7 linked regions of the Homo sapiens genome follow. The protein of the gene in region 5 purifies or fractionates together with the protein of the main gene of each other region. This does not show direct contact. Each region holds a gene or a part of one and is shown on either strand. Other genes may lie near its edges.

What was found.
Region 1: the proteins of AGA (region 5) and SIL1 purify together in Homo sapiens (affinity purification with mass spectrometry; one large-scale study listed by BioGRID and IntAct). This does not show direct contact.
Region 2: the proteins of AGA (region 5) and MOB4 purify together in Homo sapiens (affinity purification with mass spectrometry; 3 studies listed by BioGRID and IntAct, with this or other methods). This does not show direct contact.
Region 3: the proteins of AGA (region 5) and AADAT fractionate together in Homo sapiens (co-fractionation; one large-scale study listed by BioGRID). This does not show direct contact.
Region 4: the proteins of AGA (region 5) and ZER1 purify together in Homo sapiens (affinity purification with mass spectrometry; 3 studies listed by BioGRID and IntAct, with this or other methods). This does not show direct contact.
Region 6: the proteins of AGA (region 5) and OXCT1 fractionate together in Homo sapiens (co-fractionation; one large-scale study listed by BioGRID). This does not show direct contact.
Region 7: the proteins of AGA (region 5) and ECI1 fractionate together in Homo sapiens (co-fractionation; one large-scale study listed by BioGRID). This does not show direct contact.

What each region holds. Positions count from the first base shown.
Region 1 is NC_000005.10:138,946,224-138,950,368, reverse strand, and holds the end of SIL1 (nucleotide exchange factor SIL1 precursor), read left to right. Parts: intron 1-2,895; coding exon 2,896-3,252; 3' UTR 3,253-3,645; downstream 3,646-4,145.
Region 2 is NC_000002.12:197,536,566-197,540,065, forward strand, and holds part of MOB4 (MOB-like protein phocein), read left to right. Parts: intron 1-3,500.
Region 3 is NC_000004.12:170,087,157-170,091,350, forward strand, and holds the start of AADAT (kynurenine/alpha-aminoadipate aminotransferase, mitochondrial), read right to left. Parts: upstream 2,801-4,194; 5' UTR 2,581-2,800; coding exon of another isoform or gene 2,535-2,580; coding exon 2,468-2,534; coding exon of another isoform or gene 2,456-2,467; intron 1,409-2,455; coding exon 1,240-1,408; intron 93-1,239; coding exon 1-92. UniProt on the Homo sapiens protein: Transaminase with broad substrate specificity. Has transaminase activity towards aminoadipate, kynurenine, methionine and glutamate. Shows activity also towards tryptophan, aspartate and hydroxykynurenine.
Region 4 is NC_000009.12:128,761,928-128,765,427, forward strand, and holds part of ZER1 (protein zer-1 homolog), read right to left. Parts: intron 1-3,500. UniProt on the Homo sapiens protein: Serves as substrate adapter subunit in the E3 ubiquitin ligase complex ZYG11B-CUL2-Elongin BC. Acts to target substrates bearing N-terminal degrons for proteasomal degradation with the first four residues of substrates being the key recognition elements.
Region 5 is NC_000004.12:177,435,938-177,439,437, reverse strand, and holds part of AGA (N(4)-(beta-N-acetylglucosaminyl)-L-asparaginase isoform 1 preproprotein), read left to right. Parts: intron 1-580; coding exon 581-693; intron 694-1,918; coding exon 1,919-2,033; intron 2,034-3,086; coding exon 3,087-3,162; intron 3,163-3,500. UniProt on the Homo sapiens protein: Cleaves the GlcNAc-Asn bond which joins oligosaccharides to the peptide of asparagine-linked glycoproteins.
Region 6 is NC_000005.10:41,867,626-41,871,917, forward strand, and holds the start of OXCT1 (succinyl-CoA:3-ketoacid coenzyme A transferase 1, mitochondrial isoform 3 precursor), read right to left. Parts: upstream 2,801-4,292; 5' UTR 2,734-2,800; coding exon 2,656-2,733; exon of another isoform or gene 2,119-2,655; coding exon of another isoform or gene 2,020-2,118; intron 1,978-2,019; exon of another isoform or gene 1-1,977. UniProt on the Homo sapiens protein: Key enzyme for ketone body catabolism.
Region 7 is NC_000016.10:2,241,588-2,245,087, forward strand, and holds part of ECI1 (enoyl-CoA delta isomerase 1, mitochondrial isoform 1 precursor), read right to left. Parts: intron 2,966-3,500; coding exon 2,819-2,965; intron 1,853-2,818; coding exon 1,731-1,852; intron 1,638-1,730; coding exon 1,459-1,637; intron 232-1,458; exon of another isoform or gene 48-231; intron 1-47. UniProt on the Homo sapiens protein: Key enzyme of fatty acid beta-oxidation. Able to isomerize both 3-cis (3Z) and 3-trans (3E) double bonds into the 2-trans (2E) form in a range of enoyl-CoA species, with a preference for (3Z)-enoyl-CoAs over (3E)-enoyl-CoAs.

The sequences.
Region 1 (4,145 bases), on a different chromosome or scaffold from region 5:
CCCAACTCTCTGTCTTTGCCTGTTTCTCTCTCTTCTCTTGTTAAAGCTGCAGAAATCCAGTTTCTTAGAACAGCAGGCAGCCATGTGGTGCTCAGATCCAATTGATAAGGCCTGGGCACAGTTCAGGTTCTGGGACTGGGCCAGTGAGCCTGGAGAAGGACATGTCAGCTGGCTGGGCATTTCCCAGGGAAACTGGGCTCTGTTCTCTGGTGTCTTGGGTGTGTGTCCCTGCTGCCCCCAGCCCTGGCATCCTGGGCACTATGGCACTGACACATTGCTAGCACACTACCACCAGGCAGGCTCACCAAGGCTGCCCCGAGGCTGCCGGCCCCGGGAGCCTGCCTCTGGAAGCTTTGGGGTGCTGACATGATTGGGGAGGGGAGGACTGGCATCTCTCTACAAACAGTACAGAAATGGCCCTCTTCTTTCAGGGAGGACAGCAGATAAATTTCAGCCAGAGAGATTTAGGACACACTGTACTTGGGCTGAGGCAGTCAGGGCTTCTCTGTTCTTGTGATTTCTTTTTTCTTTTTTCTTTTCTTTTCTTTTTTCTTTTTTTTTTTTTTTTTTGAGACAGGGTCTCTCTCTGTCACCCAGTGGCACGATCTTGGCTCACTGTAAACTCTGCCTCCCAGACTCAAGTGATCCTCCCACCTCAGCCCCCTGAGTAGCTGGGACTACAGGTCCATGCCACCATGCCTGGTTAATTTTGTTCGTTTTTTGTAGACAGGGTCTCACTATGTTGCTCAGGCTGGTCTTGAACTCCTGGGCTCAAGCAGTCCTGCCTCAGCTTCCCAAAGTATTGGAATTATAGGCGTGAGTCACTAAGTCCAGCCTCTTGCAGCGCTTAAGAATGAAGACCTAGCCAAGCTAGGGGTGGGTCCAGAGCTGCCTGAAGGTGGAGGGACATGAGCTGTCCACCACGATGGAGGGGTGCCATGCAGCTCGGGGATCACTGCAGCATGTTGTCATGACAGCCAAGGACTGTGGAATTCCCATGGGCAATGTGACACCCCCATCAGGGTGCTGGGGTCTGCCAGGCCCCAGGCAGTCCTCATATGTACCTTGGCCTGTGAGAGGACCTCTACTGAGAGACCATGCCCTGACATCTGGGCTTCTGCAGTGGTGAGATGCCTGCCTGGGGTTTGGATTCCATGGCCTCTGGTGCATCTGAGGAGCTGAAGGGCCGCAGGGGGACCCTGCCTGCCTGTGCTGCCTGCTGTGCCGGGTGCTGGGAAAATAATCCGCAGTCCCTGTCGTCCCTGAGCTTTCAGGCAGATGTTTATCAGAGAATTCCCCTGAGCTTGTGTTGTAGTCTGTCTGCTGCTGCTTTAACAGAATACCCGGGACTGGATAATATAAAGAAAAGGCAGTTTTTGGCTCATGATTCGGGAGGCTGGGAAATCCACGATTGGGTGGGTGCATCTGGCGGGAGCCTTTGTGTTGCATGACAACATTGTGGAAGGTGAGAGGGCAAGAGCACTTGCGGAAAAAAGCATGCTGGGCCGGGCTTGCTCTCTAGAATAACAACCGCTCTCCCGTAAGGAACCCGCTGCCCTCCTGACCTAGGCAGCTCCTCTCAATACTGCTGCCTTGGGAATTAAGCTTCCAACACTTGAACTTTTAGGGAACACACTCAAACCACAGCAGCATATAAGCAGAGAAGGCCAGTCAGGGGAGGCCGGTCAGTGGCGGTGAGGTGTGCAGGGAGCCGTGGAGTGAATGGGGCCAATGCGGGGGTGCACCTGGAAGTCGGAGCTGCGCCTCCAGAGGCCCCAGGGGAGAGTTAGAGTGACAGGAGTGGGTGTGAGTGGGTCCAGGCCGCGCACAGTGGGGGCAGAGCCTGCAGAGCCTCGCAGTCCCAGGGAAGGGATTGATTTTGTCTTTATCACCCGCAATGCCAGGCTGTGAGGGTTTGGGGGCTGGAGGAGAGGGTGAGAGCAGGAGGCACTGGATCGCAGGACACAAGGGACAAAGGTGGAGCTGACAGAATTGGGGTGTGTTTTGGAAGCGAAGCTGGCAGGACTGAGGGGTGAAGTAGGAAAGGACTAGGGGATACCTCTCAGCCTCTCCTGTCCCAGGATGCAGGATTGCACCCCTCCTCAGTTTCCTCTGCCAGCCCCAATCAGCCCCACGACTTCCTGCTGCCGCAGGAAGCACAGGTGGTCCACTGTGGCCTCCTCTTCTCCTGGGCTTCCCTCTTGCCTTGTGCATCTTCCCTGTGCTTCATTCTCCCCTGGAGTTAGGGCAGGCATTCCTTCTTTCTCCATACAGGCACACTTCCTACAGCTGCACGGGAGATCTCTGCCCCCTCCCAACCCTCTACCTCTGACCTTCAGGTAACCTGCCTGCTTGTCATGGTTCAGGTGTTGGCTTTCCCGCTGCTGGTAGCCCGGCAGGATTGGCTCCCACCATGTTCTGCTGATAGAGCTGGGCTTCTGCGCTTTACAGACAGGCTGAGTTTCTCCACTTAGGAGGTGATGACGATGAGTCTCAGGGAGGCTAAGTGCCAGCCATGGTCATTCAGCAAGTCAGTGGTGGAGCAGGAATTTGAAGCCAGCCTGTCTGCCTCCATGCTGCACTGTTAGATTACATTTATGCTATTTGGGAATTAGTTAATTTTTATTCTCCTGCTAGACCTTAAGCTCCTTGAGGGTAAGACTATGTCTCCATCGTGGTTTCTTCAGCACCTGGCACCACACAAGTGTTTCTGTTGGTGGATGAATGAATGAATAGACAGACAGACTTGGGGATAGAGGAAGAGGTGGGCCCTCAGGGGTCAGCCTCGTGCCTTCCTGTCTGAAGGGCAGAGCTAGCCAGGTGTGAGCTAACTGCTCCCTGTGTGTTCTCTCCCCACCCCCACCCTACCTGGCCTGCGGCTGTGGCGGATGGCAGATGTTCGCCGAGGAGGAGGCTGAGCTGACCCAGGAGATGTCCCCAGAGAAGCTGCAGCAGTATCGCCAGGTACACCTCCTGCCAGGCCTGTGGGAACAGGGCTGGTGCGAGATCACGGCCCACCTCCTGGCGCTGCCCGAGCATGATGCCCGTGAGAAGGTGCTGCAGACACTGGGCGTCCTCCTGACCACCTGCCGGGACCGCTACCGTCAGGACCCCCAGCTCGGCAGGACACTGGCCAGCCTGCAGGCTGAGTACCAGGTGCTGGCCAGCCTGGAGCTGCAGGATGGTGAGGACGAGGGCTACTTCCAGGAGCTGCTGGGCTCTGTCAACAGCTTGCTGAAGGAGCTGAGATGAGGCCCCACACCAGGACTGGACTGGGATGCCGCTAGTGAGGCTGAGGGGTGCCAGCGTGGGTGGGCTTCTCAGGCAGGAGGACATCTTGGCAGTGCTGGCTTGGCCATTAAATGGAAACCTGAAGGCCATCCTCTTTCTGCTGTGTGTCTGTGTAGACTGGGCACAGCCCTGTGGCCGGGGGGTCAGGTGAGTGGTTGGGTGATGGGCTCTGCTGACGTGCAGGGCTCAGCCCAGGGCATCCAGGAACAGGCTCCAGGGCAGGAACCTGGGCCCAGGAGTTGCAAGTCTCTGCTTCTTACCAAGCAGCAGCTCTGTACCTTGGGAAGTCGCTTAATTGCTCTGAGCTTGTTTCCTCATCTGTCAGGAGTGCCATTAAAGGAGAAAAATCACGTAGAAAGCTTCACACTAGTGCTGGCACCCCCCAGCTGTGAGGTAAGGCAGGGAATCATCTCACTGCCCCTCTATCGGTGCCCACATAACAGCCTCAAGGCCGCTGACCTGGCCGGCGCCTGAGGCCTGTCCATACACTGGTGCTGTGGTGACCCAGGCAGCTGATGGGCTTGACAGCTGCTGGAGTGATGGGTGCTGGAGCAATGGGTGCCGGGGTGGGGTGCTGAGAGGTGCTGGACTCTGGAGGCCCAGGGGCCAGGCCTTACTCTGGGAGAAAGCTGGCAGTGGGAGCCCAGGGGAGCCCAGGCCTGCCTGGCCCACCTGACAGGGGAGAAGTGCCTCTCTGTGGCCTTGCACCACTTCTGTGTCCAAGCAGAAACAGGGCCAAGCCCAAGGAGGAGGCCTCAGAGCTGGGAGCAGCCGTGCCTGGCGAGTCCCGGCCCCTACCCAGGCTGGCGGAGTCCCGGGCTGGAGCTGGCTGCAGGTTGCCATGGCAACCCGGG
Region 2 (3,500 bases), on a different chromosome or scaffold from region 5:
CATTTTTGCATAACTGTGTCATCTTTTGTCTTTTTTTTTTTTTTTTTTTTTTTTGAGACAGAGTCTTGCTCTGTTGCCTAGGCTGGAGTGCAGTGGTGTGATCCCGGCTCACCACAACCTCTGCCTCCCGAGTTCAAGTGATTCTTCTGCCTCAGCCTCCCGAGTAGCTGGGACTACAGGCGCAGCCATGCCCAGCTAATTTTTGTATTTTTAGTAGAGATGGGGTTTCACTATGTTGGCCAGGCTGGTCTCGAACTCCTGACCTCATGATCTGCCCGCCTCAGCCTCCCAAAGTGCTGGGATTACAGGTGTGAGCCACCGTGCCTGACTTGTCTTTTTTTTTTCCTTTGTTTCTGTAGAGATGGGGTCTCACTGTGTTGCCCAAGCTGGTCCTGAAATCCTGGGCTCAAGTGATCCTCCCATCTCAGCCTGCCAAAGTGCTGGGATTATACAGGCATGAGCCACTGCACTTGGCCACTTTATGTTTTTGTAGAGGATTACTTCCAGTTCCTAGTCTAGGCTTGGTATCTGATAAGTTACCTGTAAATTATTGCAAACTTCCAGTCTTCTCTTTGGTAAATAGAGATTAATTGTAATCCTGAAGTAAGGAGTTTTGGTGCTTTTTATAATGCCCTTTGAATGAAAAAATTGATAACTAGTGGATAGGTGGAGATAACATTAAAAGTAGATATATTCTGAAGTTACTAGGTGTTTCTTGAAATTATAAATTTTCCAGTGCAAATGGGAGCTGGGATGAGTTGACAGATTATTAATAAATATAGAGAATGCAGTATGTGTTCATTGGGGCTTATTATTTGTAAGTTGATTTTTAGATAAATAGAGTAGAAATATGACTTTTCCTGAATAAATTAGACCATGTTTCCTGTGTTGTGTGCCTCAACTTGTAGACAAGGCACTTTTTAAAAATATTTACTTTTTGATGCTGCATGCTTCTTTAGAAATGGCTAAGACATTATGTCGTGTCATAACAGTTCAGCAATTTCAGGATGCTAAGACTTCTTTGTATCCTTTGCCAGTTTTTAGACAAATTACTTGACTATTTTCTAACTTTTTAATATATATGAATGCACAATAATTCAAAGTACGAGTCTGTAGATATTTTCCCATTTTTACAACCCAAGACAGAGAGCACTTTAGTGTAGTACATCCTTTGCTTTATTTTTATCAGCCTTGAAAATAACTGCTTTCTTATGTTTTTTTTCTTGAGACAAGAGTCTCGAGTCTCGCTTTGTCACCAGGCTGGAGTGCAGTGGTGTGATCTCGGCTCATTGCAACCTCCGCCACATGGGTTCAAGCGATTCTCCTGCCTCAGCCTCCCAAGTAGCTGGGACTACAGGCACACGCCACCATGCCCAGCTAATTTTTGTATTTTTAGTAGAGATGGGGTTTCACCATGTTGGTCAGGATGGTCTTGATCTCCTGACCTCACGATCTGCCCACCTTGGCCTCCCAAAGTGCTGGGATTACAGGCGTGTGCCACCACACTTGGCCGTTTTTTCCATTACAAGCATAATTCCTAACAAATAGGGGCTGATTTTAGTGTTACAAGGGTTTTTTTTTTTTCAGATCTAAGAAAACATTTATCTCCCTATTTAACTTATTCTATGAAACATTATATAAAACATTACATAAAACTTTACATGAAATATTTCTCACAAGTATTTCATTTGTTCTGGTGCTATTTTTACTTTTGTTATTTTTTTCTACTAGCCACTTTTTGGTCTGGGTTGTATATTAACTATCGTATATATTCTTTTATCTCTTTATTGTATTGTGTACATTTTATTAGTTGACCAGGAAGAGGTTTTTTTTTTTTTTTGCATACATCCTTTATTGATTTGAGGCTGTATACTTGCCATTTTTAGTTAATGCAGTTGATTATATAATGATGTTAATTTAGATTGGGTCATGACTTCAGTCATATCTCCCACTAGCTCATATTGAGTCTTAATGATTAGGAAAAAGTACTCCTTTATGTCCGGATACATGCGTGGTGACTGGAATGTAGGCTGGATTCCAGCTCTGGTTGGTCTCTTCAGCTGCACAACTGTGTACATGTTAGCCCTGTATTAAATTAACTTGAAGTTGTGAGTTTTGCATTATTTGCCACAGATTATACCCACAGCCCTGCTGAATCAACTTAATTTTGCTTTTGGCTATAAAAGGGTTGGGTAAGAAACTTACCACAACCAGTCTTTATTACCACTTGGTGGAAAACAACTAAAAAACACATAACATGCAGTCTACTTGATAGGGGACAGTAGAGGGTGATACGGTGATTTAGAAATAATGTTATTTTTGTAATCTAAGGACAGCATTATTAGGCATCTGGAAAGGAAATGCAGTTACAAACAACTGAAAATTTGACCCTTGCCTTTTTGTTTTCCTCTGTTACAATGTGCAGTAAGTAAGTAAATGAAGTTTTTCCACCAAATTTGTTCACATATATCCTGTTTTTTTCTTTTTTGGGGGGATTTTTTTTTGTCTTCTGATTATATAGGTGTTAGCTTTGCATTGTTTTGGGAACCAAAATGATTCAATTTTTCTGATGGGGAAACATAGTATTGATTTATCTAACCTGATACATTGAACTAAATATTAATAGGTAGGACTTTAGGAGGGAACACGTTCAGTGTTTTGACAGCTGTAAAACTACCTTTGTGACATAGAAGATTGTCTTTTTATCAAATAGCTGTCTAAAACTGATGGCCTCAGTGCAATTGTAATGTAATTTTTTTTTTTTTTTTTTTGAGATGGAGCCTTACTCTGTTTCCCAGGCTGGAGTGCAGTAGTGTGATCTTGGCTCACTGCAACCTCCGACTCCCAGGTTCAAGCAGTTCTCCCTCCTCAGCCTCCTGAATAGCTGAGATTGCAGGCACCCGCTATTATGCCCGGCTAATTTTTGTATTTTTGTGGCGATGGAGTTTCACCATTTTGGCCAGGATGGTCTTGAACTCCTGACCTCAAGTGATTCACCTGCCTCGGCCTCCCAAAGTGTTGGGATTACAGGCCTGAGCCACTGCGCCCTGCTGTAATTTCTTTGTATGTTTCTATGTACCAACATTTTATTACCCTCCAGTTGCTGAATTTTTCTACAATTCAGAAATTTTCTCATATGCATATATAGCTCCTGTGAACATCTTTATACATTTATCTGCATGCAGATCTGATTATTTCATTACAATAGATTCTTAGAAGAATGACTTAGTCGAAAAGTATACACTTCCTAAAAGTCTTGGTAAATATTTCCAAATTACTTCCCTGAAAAATTGTACTAATTTCTAGTATATAAGAGAATGATCAGCTCACTTAACTCTGGTATTGAATGTTATGAGGGTTATTGGTTTTCTATTTTTAATCTGTAAGCCTTTAGAAGAAATGTGTCATTGTCAGTTTAGGTGGTTTTGAGAATGGTAATGAGGGAGGAGGGATGATACTGATGGGATTCTCTTTTTGCAGCTAATATTCTAAAAATTGCT
Region 3 (4,194 bases), 7.3 Mb from region 5:
CCATTTGTCCTTGACTGGGTGGGTAATGGATGGTAGGAGGATTATGCAATTTTATTTGTAACTGTTTTAGCCAGGACAAAAGCTCTGGAATTCTAAAGCAAAAAATGTATATTTAAATTCATAGTAGTAAAAATCATAGTAACAGTAGTAGACAGGAAATAATAAATGACAGCTTTATCAAGCACTTTGTACACTCAATTAAAAAACCCTCAAATGCTTTTTGCCAGTATGAATATTCCTATTTAAAAGATAGGCAGTAGACTTAGAGATTAGGAAATTCCTGTAAGTCATTCAGCCAGAAATTCTCAGAAAGTCAATTACGTAATAAATGAGCTGAGATTTGAATCTACATCTTTCTTATTCCAAACCTGAAGTCTTTAGCGCATGCGTTGCATAATCGATTCTTTGTTCTCTCTAGGAAGAGTTCTATGGCTACCTAGAAGTTCAGACTCAATAAGTTGTTTGTATCATGGAATGTTTGAATAAGCCTATGTATATTTAACATATTACATAACTAACACATATATACATGAATAACATTTCAATACACTTTTCAATCACAGAACAAAGCAGGTTTTAATAAAGTATAATTTATAGATTCTCTATAAATTATCCTTTATCACTTGAAGAAGACCAGCTAAGAAAGTCAAGGTATATGTTTCAGCTTGCCTTTAAGAAATTAAAGACATTTGAACCTATGAGGGCAATGTATTTGAATGGCTGCTTGTTTAGACTATAGAAATGAATGACTATATTCAATGTATTTGCATGACTGCTTGTTTAGACTATAGAATGAAGAAACGGAAGATCCAGGATGCTTAAACTTTAAAAAGTTGAAGCTTCCTGGATCTTCCGTTTCTTCATTTCTCCTGATATGTTTGTTTCACCTGGACATCTTCTCATTTTTTTGGACTCAGCTCTAATGGTATTTCCTTCTAGAAGCCTTCTTGGTCATTTGCGATTGAGAAGCAATCACTGAGGAGTGTTAAACATTCAATATCCTTTCTGTTCTTAATTATCCTTTGAAAACCTTTCCCCAGACCTTCCTAACCATTGAATACTCATTTGGTTAGTATTCAATGACTGAGTATTTGGTCATTGAATGACCAAATGGGTCAATGGCTTTAGAATATTTATGAATGGACCTTAGAATATTTCTTTAATATTCTTTATCAATGGGCCTTAGAATATTTCTTATGAAAATAAGCCAATAAAATTATGTTAAGTATTGATACTTACCCAGCACTCGGAGAATACTGAAGTGCTCTCTTCATCATCTCTTCTCCAAATTGGATGGTCTTTCCATTTTCTACAGTGATTACGGCAGTCTTAAAAGGAAACATGTTTGGATTTGGTAAGCCACCAGCCAAGGAGATCATCGATTTTGGTCCTCTGCTCAATATGTCAGCTACAATACACATGGAAGAGAAGAAACAATTTCATTGAAGATTGTTATAAGCGGATAGTTAAGCATGCATTATAGTCAATAAAACTATAAAGTTTAACGATTTCTAGTGATAGAGTGTGCTATGGTCTAAATGTTGGTGCTCCCCCAGATTCATACTTGGAAGTTAATACTAATGTGATAGTTTTAACAGGTGGGGTCTCTAGAGGTGATTAGGTCAGGAGGGATCCACCCTCCTGAATGGGATTGGTGCACTTATAAAAGAGGGCTGAGGGAATGCCCTTGGCCCTTCTGCCACGTGAGGACATAGGTTCTCCCTTCTACCACGTGAGGATGCAGCAAGATGGCTCTGTCTATAAGGAAGGGCTCTCACCATGGTGACACAGAAGCTGCTGGCACTTTGATCTTAGACTTCCTAGCTTCCAGAACTGTGAGAAATAATTCTATTGTTCATAAATTACCCAGTTTGTGGTATTTTGTTATAGCAGCCTGAATGGACTAAGACAAAAGCTAGTCTAAAATAAACATACAGAATAACTTTTTCTAGGCACCTCACTTGTGGAGGGACTAAAGAATGAAGGTGACCAAAGAGAAGGCAGAGGGATCAGAAAGACAGCAAAGGGCCACAATAGCAGAAGCCCTCCTCCACTTAGCCCCGACCTGTCTGTGAGCTTCATGGCCCACCCCTCTCCCATTTACCTGGCCCTCTCCACTGTACACCCATCTGCACGCTGTGCATGCCCCTTCTCAGCTTCCCAGGAAGAGCCTTTCTTGATAGCACGCCCCCTCCCTTCCAAGGCCGTGCCCCACAGCAGTCTGCGCCTCTCTCTACTGTTGCTCCTACTCTGCTCCAGCAGAAATACCCGCCTTCCGTTTCAGCCCGAGTTCTTTGAGAACAAAGGCTGTGTCTATTTCATTTCTGCACGCAGAGCCTGGCTCACCGCGAGCGTGCACAGGGGTACGCATGGATGCAACCAAGCGGTGGCTTGCTAGGGAACCCTCCTTAGAGGCTGTGCGAGGAATGCCCCACCCCAAAGGAGAGATGGTCACCCCGTTTCTCACTCATGGTCCGGATGGGAGAAGGGTTTCTGGCTGCGCTCGCTGCCGTGATGAACCGTGCGTAATTCATGTCTTCTGACAGCCAAGCATCAAGCTTCTTCTTCAGTGGTTGAGGACTAGAAAAACCAAAGAGCCTCGTCAAGTCCTGCCTGCTAACTCCTCACTCTGGCAACGCCACCGCGAGATGTGTCCCCCCGCTGCGTCTGGCTTCCCGCGCGCGGTGCCCGGAGAACGCCGCCGAAACTCCCCGGCTGGACGCTGCGTTCGGTCTCCCGGTCCTAAACGGGTCTGGGGCTGTGTGGCGAGCCCGGCAAAGTCCACGCCGCACGCGCTCCTGCGGCCGCCAGGGCCCAGGCCGGTTTTGCCCCGCCGCGGGCCTCGCCGCGCCCCCTCCCGCCCCGCGCCGTGGCCTATGGCCGCCCGCGGCGCGCGCCTCCCCGTCCCGGATCATCGCCCTCAGAGCGCAGGGCGCGGGGTAGCCCAGGCGCGAGGCGCTTGCAGCCCCAGGCCAATGACTCTTGACCTCGCCGCTGGGAATCACCGCAACCCGGCGTCCGCGTTGGCCGGCCTAGGCGCCGGCCCAGAGGCTAGCCCAGGGGCTGACCGAGGGGACCGGAAGTGCCCGTGATCCTAATCCTCGGGAACCATCTGGCGGCGACTTGGGTCCACTGCAGGGGGCTCCCGAGCTGCGCCCAGCCGGGAGCGGCCCCACCCTCGTTCCCGCGCGCTCCGCTGGCCTCCTCTCAGTCACTGGGACTGTGCATTTTGCCCGCTCAGACCATGGCTATGCTAAATACCCATCTTTCGTTAGTGAAACTCTGGGCACTCTCCTGGGAAGCATCCCGGCGACCAAGACGAATTTCAACATCACTTTCTCGAAGATCTCAGCATTTTGGAGTGACGATGGAGTTCTGACAAAAATTTTTGAAAAATCACTCTGAGTCTCTTCAATTTTAGTGTCTACCCTCACATTGAATTTCTGACCTTTCGTTAAATAAGAATTATGTTGGAAGTGAATATCCGGATCTTTTTGGGTCTAGCACCTTGCCTTTTTTTTTCTTACAAAATAACCCTTCTTACTCCCCACCTCCCTCAACTTTTCTGCAATTTCTCCTTCCTGAATCACCAAAATGGAATGTACAAGGTTTAATGTGAGCACTTAATGAGGGAAGGGTTTCAGACAACCTCTCTTTGACTTTAAAAAATTCTTTAATGGTTATTAAAATGAATGAACAGATTCATTCATTCAGCACAAATTTACTGAGTACTTCCTAGATGATTATTGACTCACTGCCAAATGGCTCTCTTTTAAGTTTACCTAATAGGTTGGTCAAGGAGCCACTGCTTTTATCTAGGTCCTGGCAGCAAAAGGCTGAGATAACCCAGTAAAATCTTTGTGCTAGCAGCTAAATAACAAAAAGGAAGTATTGAGAGGTGACAGCCTGCTGGCAGCCCTCGCAGCCCTCGCTCACTCTTGGCGCCTCCTCGGCCTCAGCGCTCACTCTGACCGCGCTTGAGGGGCCCTTCAGCCCGCCGCTGCACTGTGGGAGCCCCTTCCTGGGATAGCGGAGGCCGGAGCCGGCTCCCTCAGCCTGCGGGGAGGTGTGTAGGGAGAGGCACGGGCGGGAACCAGGGCTGTGCGGGCGCTTGCGAGCCAGCTAGAGTTCCGGGTGGGCGTGGGCTTGGCGGGCCGGCACTCAGAGCGGCGGGCCGGCTCCGCCAGACCCGGG
Region 4 (3,500 bases), on a different chromosome or scaffold from region 5:
CTCAAGGTCAAACAGAGGGAGCTGTGTAAACTAGACTGGAACCTGGTCTCGTGGAATCCCTCACATCTCTTAGAGCAAGCTTGTCCAACCTGTGGTCCATGGGCTGCATGTGGCCCAGGACAGCTTTGAATGCAGCCCAACACAAATTTGTAAACTTTCTTAAAACATTATGACATTTATGGACTTTTTTTTTTTTTTAGCTCATCTGCTGTTGTTAGTGTTGGTGTATTTTACGTGTCGCCCAAGACAGTTCCTTTTCCAGTGTGGCCCAGGGAAGCTAAAAGATTGGACACCCCTGACTTAGAGGGTTCTGGAGTTCTGGGGCCCAGCATTGTCCCAGCTTCTGGGAGCCTCCCTCTGTGCCCATTTGTAAACCTTCCAGACTGCTCAGGAAATCCAGCGGGAAGCCACAGGGCACACTGGGCTTTGGAATCAGCCAGTTCTGAGTTCAACTGTGGCACCACTGTCTACTGGGGACTGTGTGTGGATGGGCTGTGGATTCAGGCAGGCATAGCTCACATTTCAGCCTTGCTGCTCACGAGGAGACAAACTTGGGCAAGTGTCTCCACCTCTCTGTGCCTCAGTCACTTTTCCTCTAAAATAGAAGCAGCACAATACCTCATCCCCAGCACGGTGTGAAGATTCCATGGAATAATATCAAAAGGGCTTAGAACGGTGTCTGGCATGTAGTCATTGCTCAATAAAGACAACCGTTATTATGTTGTTGTTATAATCATTACCTTCTCCTACCTCATCTGCCCTGGCTCCCAGCTCCGGGCCTGTGCTCCCCGGCCTGGGTCTCCCACAACAAGGCTCATTGTGTCAGCTGTCCCACTGGCAGCATGGCACCCTCGAGGGAAGGCACAAAAGCCAGGATGCCTGGGCCCCGGGCATGGCCTTCCTTTGCCTTCATTTGCTTCAAGATCTTTAAGAGCCCAGCAGCCTCTCTTGCCTGGGAAACTGGAACCAGAGGGAGCACTGCTGGCAGAGAGTCCCCACTCTTGGAAAGCAACTCTTTTCAAGCCCACCGGAATTACAGCCAGCTTTCTGGCCTACTTGGTCCCCACTGCCCCCCTACTCCAGCCAGCCTGGCCTCATCATTCACTGTCCTGGCAAAAGGCCCTCGGCACAGGTCACCTTCAGACCTTTGCCCAGTCTGTTCTCTTTCAACCAGGACCATCCAAATTCAACTAATTACTGCACTTTCTAATTTAAATACTGCCTTCTCCCCTCCCCTACCCAAATACACTCCATGTCCTTCCTCCAGGAAGTATCTCCTGGCCACTCCAGCCCACATGATCTTTGAACTCTCCTTTCACGTAGCTGATACCTATGGTCCCAGTGTCAAAGTTACTTCCTCTGGGAAGCCATGCTTAACCCACCAGGGTGTGCCTGCTGAGTCCCCCCACAGGCCCGATCTACCACAGCAATGAACACTTGGTACGATGTGGCTTTGATGATTCAGCATCCTTGATGGATGGCCAGGTCCATGAGGGCAAAACCAGGCTGTCTTGTTTGGTATCACCTCCCTGGACCTGCTCACTCAGTCCCTGCTGAGCACTGGGGGTCCTTGGTGAGCGAGCCGGACAAGGTCCTTGACCACATGGAGCGTACTGGCTCCGGAGGGAGACAGATCCACCTACAGGGCCCATAAGCGCCTGTCGCGTAACTGGGACCAGTGTCTTGCAGGAGAAGGGGCCTGGGGCTCTGGATGCCCAATCAGGGGACTTGCCCTGGACTGGGGAGTCAGAGCAGGTATCCTTAGAAGTGACATTTCAGGCCAGGTGCAGTGGCTCACACCTGTAATCCCAAAACTTTGGGAGACTGAGGTAGGTGGATCACCTGAGGTCAGGAGTTCGAGACCAGCCTGGCCAACATGGTGAAACTCCGTCTCTACTAAAAATACAAAAATAAGCTGGGCTGGTGGCGCACGCCTGTAATCCCAGCTACTCGGGAGGCTGAGGCAGGAGAATTGCTTGAACCCGGGAGGCGGAGGTTGCAGTGAGCCAAGATCACACCATTGCACTCTAGCCTGGGCAATAAGAGCAAAACTCCATCAAAAAAAAAAAAAGAAGTGACATTTCAGCTGGGACCCAAAAGATAAGTCCTAGTTAACTCTGGTGGAGGGGAGAGAAGGGGAAGGCGCTTTGGGAGGAAGCAAAGAAGTACCTAAGCTGCAAGGAGAGGGGGTGCATGGGACGTTGGCACTACGGGCCCAGGTCCATGACTATTTGCTAAATGAACAAAGGAAGCACTGAACACTCAATGTGGGGCCTGCCACAAGGTGAGGTTTCAACAAAGGCCTGTGGAAGGAATGACAAAGTACTCGCCATCAGAGGTCTGCACGAGGCCTGGGAGGTATAGTACACTCTCGCATTCTCCCTGCTTGCTGCACTCAGGACACTGCTGGGCGCCCAGTGGCTGCAAATGATGCCTCTTGGCTCGGAGGCTCTGAATGAGGGAGAGCCACTGGGGTTTTGCCTTTTCTGCAGGTCTGAGCCCAGTTACCTAGGCAGCTGCTCTGCCCTTACCATGCTCCCCAAGTGGAAGAAACACCACCACGTCAGTTGTCACGGTCACCAAAAGCCCCCAAAACATAAGCCAGGTAGATGGCGCCATCTGCTAGCCTCCCCTTAGCAGTGTTGACCTTGCCACTCAGGGCTGGAATGAGCTGGAAGAGGAAGCAGCCATCTTACATCCTGGCACAGAGACTGAAGGGCCCCGGGGCTACCATGCCCTGAGACCCATCCAGCTGCGGGCCTGGCACCTGCCAGAGGCAGCCATCTCTACCTACTCCACTCTACCTACTCCATTCCTTAGGGATTGTCATTCTCAGGGCAGTCACAGGCCATCTGGAATTCCAGCAACTGAGGACAGAGGGAGCTCTGGTTATGACCGACCACCACACTGGGAGAACCCTGTGTCTTTCTCCATCCCTTTTCTTGCATGTTCTCTAATACTAGGTCTATCATGAACATTCGACATCCTGGGGAATGAAGGAAGTGGGAGAGAAGAGAGAGAAAAACAGCACCAGCAGCAGCAGCAGCAGAAGGCACCGCCATACCACGTCCATGTTGGCTGCTTCCAGATGTGGTCCTAAGCTCCTTACAGGCTTTACTCCCTCGAGTCTCTTACTCAACCGACAAAATATTTCCTAGTACCCTGTACTTGCAACTAATTAATCATTTACATAACAATTTGTCAACTGACACCCTCCTACTGCCTGTGAGCTCTGGGAGGACAGAAGCTGTATGCTTGCTTGCATGCCTGCATCCATGCACATGTACACACACACACACACACACACACACACACACACACACGTGCGCAAGCGCGCACGCACCTGTATCCTTGGTGTCTGACTTCGGTGCCCAATTTATGCCTGGTGTTTAATAGAACAAAGGTTTGCTGTGGCTGGAATTCCCTTACTCTAGTACTGCAAGATAGAGATTATTACCCCATTTTCTGATGAAGATACTGACGCATACACAACTAAGCAG
Region 5 (3,500 bases):
GTAACTTTTAAATCTCTTTACTTCTTCATCTCTAAGAAGAAGGCAATGGAAGTTTTGAGACGGAGTTTCGCTCTTGTCACCCAGGCTGGAGTGCAATGGCGCGATCTCAGCTCCCGACAACCTCTGCCTCCTGGGTTCAAGTGATTCTCCTACCTCAGCCTTCCAAGTAGCTGGGATTACAGGCACGTGCCACCATGCCCAGCTAATTTTTATATTTTTAGTAGAGACGGGGTTTCACCATGTTGGCCAGGATGGTCTCAATCTCTTGACTTCGTGATCCACCCGCCTCAGCCTCCCAAAGTGCTGGGATTACAGGTGTGAGCCACCGCGCCTGGCCGGGACGAGAACTCTTATAATGCATGCCCCAAAGGTTTTAAGTGGATCTGTTTTAGGAAAGGCATAAGGAAATCGAAGGTCTAAAAATTGAGTCTCTTAAAACTGTTCATGTGTGAATATTCCTTTGAAAGTCTTTGTGTAGCTCACTTAAGATGCTGCTGACCCAGAATGTCTCTAGTACATATATTTTTGTTGAAAAGACAATACTTGAATAATTTATACTTTCCTTTTTTCCAATCTCCAGCCACCACATTTGCTCAAAGTATGGGGTTTATCAATGAAGACTTATCTACCACTGCTTCTCAAGCTCTTCATTCAGATTGGCTTGCTCGGAATTGCCAGCCAAATTATTGGAGGGTATGCACACATTTAATTTAAAAAAATAAGTTAATTGAAAATATTCAGTGACATCCTTTCTGCTCAGTGTTGCCTGCCTGTTGTCCAGGGTACTGGTTAGCATCCTGGCTGTACATTAGAACTAGTGGTTTTAGTTGACTCTCCAGGTATGGATGTTCCTGAAACACCTCTAGCTGCATTGGGTGCATATCCAGCATGGAGAGCTACTGGTCTCTCACAATAGTTTTCAAACTGAAGTTTCTGCCATGTGGAGGTGGCTGCCTCAATCAGGGCTGCTCTGCTTGTATTTCTTTCTAACTAAGTCTAAAAAATCAGTTTGGAAACTATGAGTCTAAAATATTTCTTAGATTTTACGTGCAGTGTATCCAGTATCTTGTTCTTGACTTGAGGACATGTAATATTACATGTCTAGTATGTTACCAGTGGAATAATTTTTCTTTAATGAGACTTTTGGCATAAATCAGTTTGCCTTTGCCGTACAGGGTCCTTCTGTGGGATATCTTAGTCTCTCATCTATTTCTTCCCTAAGTCCTAATTACTTTCGAGTAGCCATCAAGTCAGAAGTCCCTTGGGTTAGCACTTGAAAGAGGCTAATCATAAAACGAAGTTAGGGGAGGCACCTAGCGCACTGATGTGTAAGACATGAGGAATAGGAATAGGTTTCTTGCTTTAATACCAGTCTACATACACAACCTAAATTTATGAGTTTGCATTATATTCTTGAGCCCTTTAGATTTATAAAGGAATCTTAAAGCACAACTTAGAATATATTCACATAAACCTAGCTTTGAAGAAACAATAAAAGCTTTTAAAACATATTTTACTTTAAGTCTCAGAATTCTTTGGCCAAGGAACAAATTTCTGAAATTTAAAGGTCCAGTGTGTATCTAATTTCTTTAAGGATTAATATCTAATTTTAAAAAATTTTACTATTGTGTTGAGAATTTTAGATATATATAAAGAGAGAAATTAGGGACCTGTGTCATGCAATATAGATACCTCACCTGTATTATTTAATTCTTAGACTAGAATGGATATTCAGTAAAATTATTTATCTTATTTGTTTTTATATAAGACTTAGTGATTTCTTAGCTTTTAATTCTTATCTTTAAGTTACCAGATGTCTTTTTTTGGTTTCTTGCTAGTGTTTAGCGATTGTACATAATTTCTTGGCAATTTCTAAAAATACCCTTTGTAAGAAATAAAACTTAAATCTTGTTTACAGAATGTTATACCAGATCCCTCAAAATACTGCGGACCCTACAAACCACCTGGTATCTTAAAGCAGGATATTCCTATCCATAAAGAAACAGAAGATGATCGTGGTCATGACACTATTGGTAATTTGCCTTTTGTGCAGTTTTTATGGATAAAGTTTAGTTAATTATCTTCCTGTAGCTCTTCCCTATTCTTCTACCAGAAGTTGATTTTGATTGTTTTAACTGCCAATTAAGTGTGCCTCTCTATAGATAGATCCATCTTGTCTTAGGATCTGTATAAAATTTGGCAAATTATTTATACAAGACACCTAAAACCCAATGACTATTCACTTGCGGATTTTTAAATCTTTATTTGACATTTCATTTTTTGGCAGTTTTATGTTGCTGTATTTTAGTGACCTTAAATAACTTTTTCCAAGTTACAATGTTGAAAATTTACATTAGTCTATGTCTTAGTTTGTTTTTCGCTGTTATAACAGACTACCACAGACTGGGTAATTTATAAACAAAAGTTTATTTGCCTCACAGTTCTGGAGCCTGAGAAGTTCAAGAACAGGGCACTGGCATCTGGCAAGGGCCATCCCAAGGTGGAAGTCAAGAGAATGAGACAGGAAATCGGGTAGAACTCATCCTTTATATCAGGAACCCACTCCCTGCGATAATGGCATTAAGCCCTTTTAGCCTAATCGCCTCTTAAAGGCCCCACCTGTTAATAATAATTAATAATGTTAATTGCCTGTTATAGTGGCAGTTAACAAAATACCCAGACTGGATGGCTTATAAACAACAGAAATTTATTTCTCACAGTTACGGAGGCTGGGAAGTTCAAGGTCAAGGCGCTGGCAGGTTCAGAGTTTGGAGACAGCTTGTTTTCCTGGCTCATGGATGGCGTCTTCTTGCTGTGTCGTCACGTGGTGGAAGGGGCGAGGAAGCTCTCTGGGGCCTCATTTATAAGGGATGAATTCCATTCATGGGGGCTCTGTCCTCATGACCTAATGAGCTCCCAAAGGCCTCACCTCTTGATACCATCACCTTGTGGAATAGGATGTTGACATGAATTTGGGGGAACACAAACATTCAGAGCACAGCAGTTATTACCAGTTGCTCAATTATTTGGTTATATTTGAGGTAAACTTTATACACCTACAGTGATTTTTTTTTTTTAACTTCTAGGCATGGTTGTAATCCATAAGACAGGACATATTGCTGCTGGTACATCTACAAATGGTATAAAATTCAAAATACATGGGTTAGTGTTTCCAAAAGAACAGAGCTCTCAAATATACACTGAATGCAGAGCAATATATGCCGGGTGCTATGGGGGTTGCAAAGCACAGCCCTAGTCTCACAGCTGCGATGAATGAGTGTGAAAGAAAATGCAGTACTCTCTGCTGAGTGCCACAGGAGAGGGAGTCACAGCCAGTGCTATAGGGTTTAGGGGTGGCAGAGGTGATCTCTTTAAGCTGGGGTAGTTAGGAACACCAGTAAAGTGATGCTTGGAGCTCAGCCCTGAGTCATGGTAGTTGAGGTTCAGCGCTCCTACTGGCTAGGAAAGTTGTGTGTGTATATGTGTGTGTGTGTTCAGGG
Region 6 (4,292 bases), on a different chromosome or scaffold from region 5:
CAAAACAAGGAATGGGAAAGCCACTTTATGGCTAGTTTGCTTTGGATCAGAAAGAGCTTTAAGCACCAACTGACATCCAAGTGAAGTTCACCAGTTGCACCAGAAGGACTGCAGCTCAGGAGAGTCAGAGGTTGGAAAGAGATTTGGGAAAAGACAGGGTCAAGGATGAATGGTGGGTAAAGTGTTAGTGGTACTCTTATAACCTTTTTCCCACTAATAATTTTCTATAGTGAAAATAGTATTAAATGCTCCCCACTGCCCCTCAGTAATAATGAAGAAAAGAAGATACCTCCCAATAGTCTATTTTCACCTAAGTCCATGCCAGATAACTCTGAAAGGGGCAGTCAGTCCCCAGACCAGCAGCATCAACATCACCTGGAACTTATCAATGCAAAGTTTAGGGCCCCACCCAGGACCTATTAAATTAGAAATTCTGGGGGTGGGTACAGCAATCTGTTTTAGAAAACCTCCAGGTAATGCTGATGCACTCTCAGGTCTGCGAGACACTGGGCCTGCCCATTATAAAAATGTTAAACATTTAAGAAAATAACTATCTCGTTTTAGCTGTTAGTTATGTTTAGTGGAAAAACTCAAGGTTTCTGTTTGCCTGGAGGGTTCTCTCATCCGTACTTTAAACATGTGTAGAATATCTGATCTATGCAGAGTAGTGTGTTTGTTGAGGGAGACTAAGTGTAAGGCATAAATATGGTCTCTGCCATCGGGGAACTGTCATCTGGTTGAGGAGACAATATACACATCTGAAAAGTTAAACAAGTAGATAAGTGGTACAGTTCAACAGAAGCAGCAGGTGAGGATTTAAAGTGCTAAACAATAAGGGCTGTAATCCCAGCACTTTGGGAGGCCGAGGCGGGCGGATCACGAGGTCAGGAGATCGAGACCATCCCAGCTAAAACGGTGAAACCCCGTCTCTACTAAAAATACAAAAAATTAGCCGGGCGTAGTGGCGGGCGCCTGTAGTCCCAGCTACTTGGGAGGCTGAGGCAGGAGAATGGCGTGAACCCGGGAGGCGGAGCTTGCAGTGAGCCGAGATCCCGCCACTGCACTCCAGCCTGGGCGACAGAGCGAGACTCCGTCTCAAAAAAAAAAAAACAATAAGGGCACTAAGAGCCACAAGCTAGGGGAATAGTGGAAGGCAGGAGTTAGACCTATGATAATCAAGCCTGACAGGGCTAAGTTTGAACTCTGTATGAACTTTTAATGAGATATAGCAGAACCCCTTATTTGCATCTCGTCCCTCTAAGATGAGGTTTGCTGAGCTTCGGAAATGGTTTAATGATATACTCAAGATGGAAAAGACTTGAAGTGAGTAAATTACAGTTGGGCAAATCAGTAACTGTCAAAAGAAGGAACGTTCCTGACCTCGGCCCAAGGGTATCGCTGTGCTCTGGTTTGTATTAGCTTCAGCACCGCTGCAATCTCACTGAAGGTCAAGTTCCCTTTTAATAATGCTTTATATATCCAAGTCTATCTGCAGTTATAAAAATGCTTCCTAAGAGGCATTTAAGAGTAAAATGGTCCAGTTCTGAACCATTCCCTAGCACCTACCGAAGGAGCTCAGTGGCTCCTCTGTGTTCTCAGCGGTCAGGGATTGGATGCAGGAAAGAGCAATGGGGCCAGGCAGGCACGCTTCAGGAGTAAGCACCGTGTGCATGGCACGCTGTCAAGCTCAGACCTATTACTGAATACCAAGGAAGAGGCTCCCGCGATTGAGACGGCGGGGATAAAGCCACCCTCCTGGACCTGGCGCTCTGGTCCTGTAATTCGCTCCTAGGGCTCCAGACAGGGGTGGGCTTACAAGCGAGGACAGTGCATAAGGCAAAACCACAAGTCAGTCCACGGTGGGAATGCCTCCGGATACCACTCGGTGGAGAGTCGGCAGTGGGGCACAAAAAGGATTTCAAAGGGCTCTGAAAACCGAAAGCCCCTAACCCGGATACGAGGGGCCTCGAGAGAAAGGTTTGTCCTCCCCTGCAGCCCAGGCGCGGGCCAGGGACACACCTCGGATGGTTTCCCAGCTTGGCCGGCAAGACGCCCTGGCGAGCGCTCCAGTCTACGGGGCAGCAGAGCCAAATAGGGAGGAGAGGATGGGAGCGGCATTCCACACCCGCCGCACCCGGCATCCAGCCCCGGTGAACTCGAGCAGAGCCATGGCTAACCCAGCCTCAGGTTCTGGGCCTCTAGAGGTTCCTCTGCCCAGAGATCCAACATCGGGGGCGCAAACCTACCCGCTGTTGCCTCACTCCTAAACCTCCATATACTGGCGCCCTCCTCCCCCCGTTCAGACCCTCAGAGTCCCTATCCAAGGGCGGGTGCCAGGAGGGAAGCCGACGAGCGCCAAAGGGCTCGGGAGCGCTGCCAGGAGTCCTCCCGCCCCTTCTCAGCCTCTCCGCGCGCTTCTTTATCGCGTCTCGCTCCATCAGGGAAGCGACTGCAGAACCAAGCAAAGGCGGTCATCCGAGGGGCCGGCGAGGCCAGGAACGCGTCGCCGCGTGTCCGTGACCAGGGCACCGCGCCACGGATGCCAGATCCCAGGCTGGAGAGAGCGGGTAGGGGCAGAGAAGAAAACGCGGGCACCACTCAGGGTTTGGTCCACGTTCTTCCTGCCCATGGCCTTCCTCTTCCCCCGCACTTTACCTTGTACCAGGTTGCCCCAGATCCGCGGGCAGAGGCGCAGAGCCGAAGCCCGGAGGAGAGGAGTTTGAGAGCCGCCATCTTCGGGCGGTGAGGCAGGAGGAGGCTGCGGGTTGGAGCGCGCGTTTGAGCGTCGGTGCGCGACTGCGAAGGAAACCCGGGCGGGCTGGAGGCTCGACAGCGCGTCGATGACGTCCTCCCGGCCTTTCGAGCCGCACGCCACCGGCGCGCTGCTGGCTGCTGCTTTTAAAAGAAGTGAGGCTGGGCGGGGCCCCGGCGGGGAGAAGAGGCTCTGTGCAGCCGGGGCGGATCGCGGGGAAGTTCCTCTCAGCGCCTCAGGTGTCTGGGCGTGTGCAGCTGTGTTGGCGCACACTTGCCGCTACAGCCCTTCTGTCAGCCCTTTAGCTTCGATGGGGCGCTGGTGGCCGCCTCCCCCTAGGTTGTGGATGAGTCTTGGCCTAGGGTTCAGGGCCCTCCGGCCGCGGGAGGATCTCCCGCCAAGCTTGTTGCTTTTCCAAGTTAGTGCCTGGCGTGTGTGTGGGCTGCATAGGGGCACCCCTCGAGGCCCCCTTCTCTTCTCCCGCCTGGACTGCGTTCACGTTTCTAACATTTCTCAGCCCCTTCTCCCCACATCTGGCCTTGGCTTACATAGAGTAAGTTTGCTGTGAGCACTTGCCTCGAACTGTCGGTCAAGAGGTGTGAGCAACAAGGCTTGCAGAGGAACAAGATTAAGACTGGACCTCTGTGACCTGAGTTTAGCACACCTTTTCTTCCCCATCATCCAAGTTTGCGAATTTCGGGCTCTTTCTCGCACTGGAGTCCCAGCAACCCCAGAGATTACTAAAGATGCAACCATAAAAGCAGTATATTGCTTTAACCTTAGGCAAGTTAGATAACTTCCCTAAGCCTCAGTGTCCTCATCTGCAAATTAGGATTGCTTGTGATACAACGTCATAACGTTTCTATGAGTTAATTCATGCAAAGTTTATGGCCTTATTATGAGGAGTCAATAAATGTTAGGCATTATTATAAGTTTATTCCATTGTAGCAGTTCATTGACATGGCACGTACATATTCGCCAAGCCTTGTCTTTTGACCAACTCCTTGAGGACATGAGCCACGACTGATTTCTCCAGAACTGTCTTTGCACTTAGCAGAGTGGAAAGACCAAGTGGAAGCTCAATAGCATTTTATTTGATTAAGGCCTGACCAAGTTCTGAGAATGTGATGTTAGTTTTGAACCAAAGCAAAGCACACAAAAATTAAATGAGATCTTAGCTTCCTTAGCAAATACAGTAAGGTAATGAACAGTGAAGATGCAGTTCAAAGTTTGTCCATAAAATCATTTGCCCTTTCATGGTATTCTTTTAACTCTGAACTTTTTTTTTTCCTGTAAATATTATAATTTTAGTCAAAATCAGTTAAGGAGTAAGATACCAAGTTAGACTATTCAATTACACTGGAGAAATTAACTTATTGCTAGTTGGTATTTCAACACATTTTAAGAAGTTGGATTGGGGGGAAATTCAAGTACTGTAACTAAAGTCCCATAACTAGTGATAATTTAGCATATAGCAGCTGTTGTACCTTTAACTTACACAATGTGAAAAAAACTAGCATTCCAATTGAGTCTGCTTTTC
Region 7 (3,500 bases), on a different chromosome or scaffold from region 5:
TGCCGGGCTGGTTTTTACATTTTTGAATAGTTGAAAATCAAAAGAAGGTTAGTATTTTGTGACATGTGAAAATTATGTGAAACTCAAATTTCAGTGTCCATAAAATTTTTTTTGTTGTTTTTGAGACAGAGTCTCACTCTGTCACCCAGGCTGGGGTACAATGGCATGATCTTGGCTCACTGCAACCTCTGCCTCCCAAGTTCAAGCGATTCTCCTGCCTCAACCTCCCAGTAGCTGGAATTACAGGCACGTGCCATCACGCCCGGCTCATTTTTTTTTTTTTTTTTTGAGACAGAGTCCTGCTCTCTGTTGCTCAGGCTAGAGTACAGTGGTGCGATCTCAGCTCACTGCAAGCTCCGCCTCCCGGGTTCACGCCATCCTCCTGCCTCAGCCTCTCGAGTAGCTGGGACTACAGGCGCCCGCCGCCACACCTGGCTAATTTTTGTATTTTTAGTAGAGACAGGGTTTCACCGTGTTAGCCAGGATGGTCTTGATCTCCTGACCTTGTGATCCGCCCGCCTCGGCCTCTTAAAATGTTGGGATTACAGGTGTGAGCCACCGCGCCTGGCCCATTTCTGTATTTTTAGTAGAGATGGGGTTTCACCATGTTGGCCAGGCTGGTCTTGAACTCCTGATCTCAAGTGATCTGCCTGCCTCAGCCTCCCAAAGTGCTGAGATTACAGGCGTGAGCCACCGCACCTGGCCCACTGTCCATAAAGCTTTGCCGGAACACAGCTATACCTGTCAGTTTACGTCTCCTCTGTGGCTGCTTTCTGCTACAAAGGTCTTACCTACAGAGCCCACAAGCCACCTGGCCCTTTAGAGACAGAATTTGCTGGGCCCTGGTCTATACCATCGCTGATATGACCAGCTCTTTTTCTATGAAGTGGACAATTGTCTTTGTAGTAGGTTGAAAAGTGTGCCCCAAAAGATAGGTCCAAGCCCTAACCACTGCTCTGGAACTTGGAAGTGTGACCTTATTTGGAAAGAGTCTCTGCAGATGTAATTAAGTTGGGATCATCTTGGATTTAAGGTAGGTCCTAAATCACATGGCAGGTGTCCTGAGAAGGGAGAGAGAGACCTGAGACCCACAGAAACACAGGGGAGAAAGCTGCGTAAGGATGGAGGCAGAGATTAGAGCGAGGCGCCCACAAGCCCAGGGAGGCCTGGAGCCAGCAGAAGTGGGCGGGGCAGGAAGGAGCCTCCCTGGAACGCAGGGAGGAAGTGCAGTCCTGCCCACACTTTGATTTTGCACCTCTGGTCTCCAGCACCGTGAGATGAGCTTCTGCGGTCTGGGCCACCCGGTCTGTGCTGCGTTGTTACAGCAGCCTCCTGACACCCACATGGCTGTGATTATCAACAGTCTCCCGAAGTCACGATGTCCACAGAAAACCTTTGGGTGGAGAACCTTCTGGTCTCCCCAGCATCATCGGGCGCCCGCCATGCCCCGTGCCTCACCTGGAATGGCCATCCACTGGGCTATCGCTGACAGCGCAGTGCTCTGCACCTGCTCCTCCGGGACCACCTGGTCCACTATGCCCACCTGCAGGGCCTCCGCCGGCGGGAAGAGCAGCCCCAGCTGCAGGGCACGCTCCGCCGCCCGGTGCCCGATGGTGTTCTCCAGGGTGTCTTTCAACCTGGAAATGCAGACACCCACTCACCACATGGCCCCAGGCGGGTCTGTTCCCTCCACAACAAGCATGGAGCGTGGCTGCAGCCCAGGGCCTTACCAGAAAGGGGCGATGATGCCCAGCTGGGTCTCATTGAGTCCTATGCAGTACCTGGGGTTGTCCGCCAGGATGCGGTAGTCACAGGTCAGGGCCACCAGGCAGCCTCCAGCGGGGCAGGCTCCCTGCAGGGAGAGGCCGGACAGGGCTCTTAGGTGCTGCTGGTCCCAACCACATTCCAGAGGGCCAGGTCCAAGGAAGGAGGGCCTGTGCCCTTGGCGCACCCCGACCCCCGCAGGGTTCAACACCCACAATGGTCTGGGCTGGGCTGGGTGTGCACTGGGAAATGGATGAGGAAGGAACTGGCCCCTTAGCGCTCGGCAAGGAGGGTCTGAGGCTCGTCCTCAGCCGAGGGTCATTAGTTCTTCGGCAACAGATAAATCACTTTTAAAAACCATTCAGTTAGGGGAGCAAGTCGCTTGTCCTCTCAGTGCTTTTACTCAATGCTAAAATGCCACACAAGCATTTAGTCATAACTGTCATGCCCCAAGGGGGCCCCGATACCACCCCAGCAGCTAGCGCAACCAGGATGTCCTGGGAACCCCACACTCACCCTGTGGTCACTGCAGGTACCCACTGCCCCGCGCAGGACCCATCCTGTCTGCATGGCCGTGCACCCTTGAGGCTTCCTCTCACACCAGCCCTCCCCTCCACCAGGCTCCGGCCCACACCCGGCTTGTCACAGCCACCCCGCAGGACACCCTGGTTCCTGAGGTTAAGCCCCCGTGTTGTTCTCGGCTTCCCTGGCCTTCCCCCAGAAGGGATGGAGTGATGTTTCCAAAATGTGGGTCCGATCACCCACTCACCCACACAGCCTCCACCCAGGCTGGCATCAACCCCAGGCCCTGGTCCCTACCCACTGGCTCTTTTCTGGGTCTTGTCTGATTGACCCAGGCCAGGGCCCTCACCCGAGGCCCACCTTTCTCAACACGCCCCGTGGTCTGCGATGGCGCTCACCTGTGCACATCTCAGGGCCTCTCCAACCGTCCCCTTCCCCTGTGAGAGATTCCAAGGGCAGGACAGTGTCTGTCCCACCCCCTGGCGCTGGCCCAGAACAGCCAGCGAGGCCACCTGGGAGTGGGGACACTCACGTTGATGGCGGAGACCAGCACCAGGTTGGACTGGTACAACCGCAGCCACAGCTCCTGAACGGCCTTCCAGTACCCAGCGTAGTGGGCGGGGCTCCTCCCACACATCTCCGTCAGGTCCAGGCCGGCCGAGAAGACACCCGGGCGGTCCTGCAGGGGGAGCCGGGGCCACATGCCCATCAGAGTCCACCTCCCAGCTGGCATCACAGCAGGAGGGCTGGGGAGCCCAGGTGCACGACGCACAGCAGGGCCAGGTCACGCTCAGGGTGTGGGTGCTGCCCCACAGAGCCAGGACTAGGCGCTCCAGGGACTCGGCCAAGGCTTCTCCTGGACCTGGCTTCCCTGTACTTCCCAGAACATTCTTCCCTTTCCCGCTTCAAACTGGATAGGAGAGGACAGGCAGCGCCAGGCACCTCTCAGGGACATAAGTGCGCCGGCCCTCTGGCTCTGCACGCCTGGCTCGGGCAGAAGAACCCAGAGGTGTGGTGAAGACTCCTGAGAATCCAGAGGAGCTGCACGTTCTGAATCATTTACCCGCAAAGGGCCAAGCAAGCCAGGGACCCCCGTGTGGACCAGGAAGTGCTAGGGTGGGAGAATGATCTGGAATGTGTGGGTTTCTCAGCAGCTACCAAGGAAGGGCGAGGGGTGAGCACAGGTGGAAGGGACCCTCCCACGGCTGGAGTAG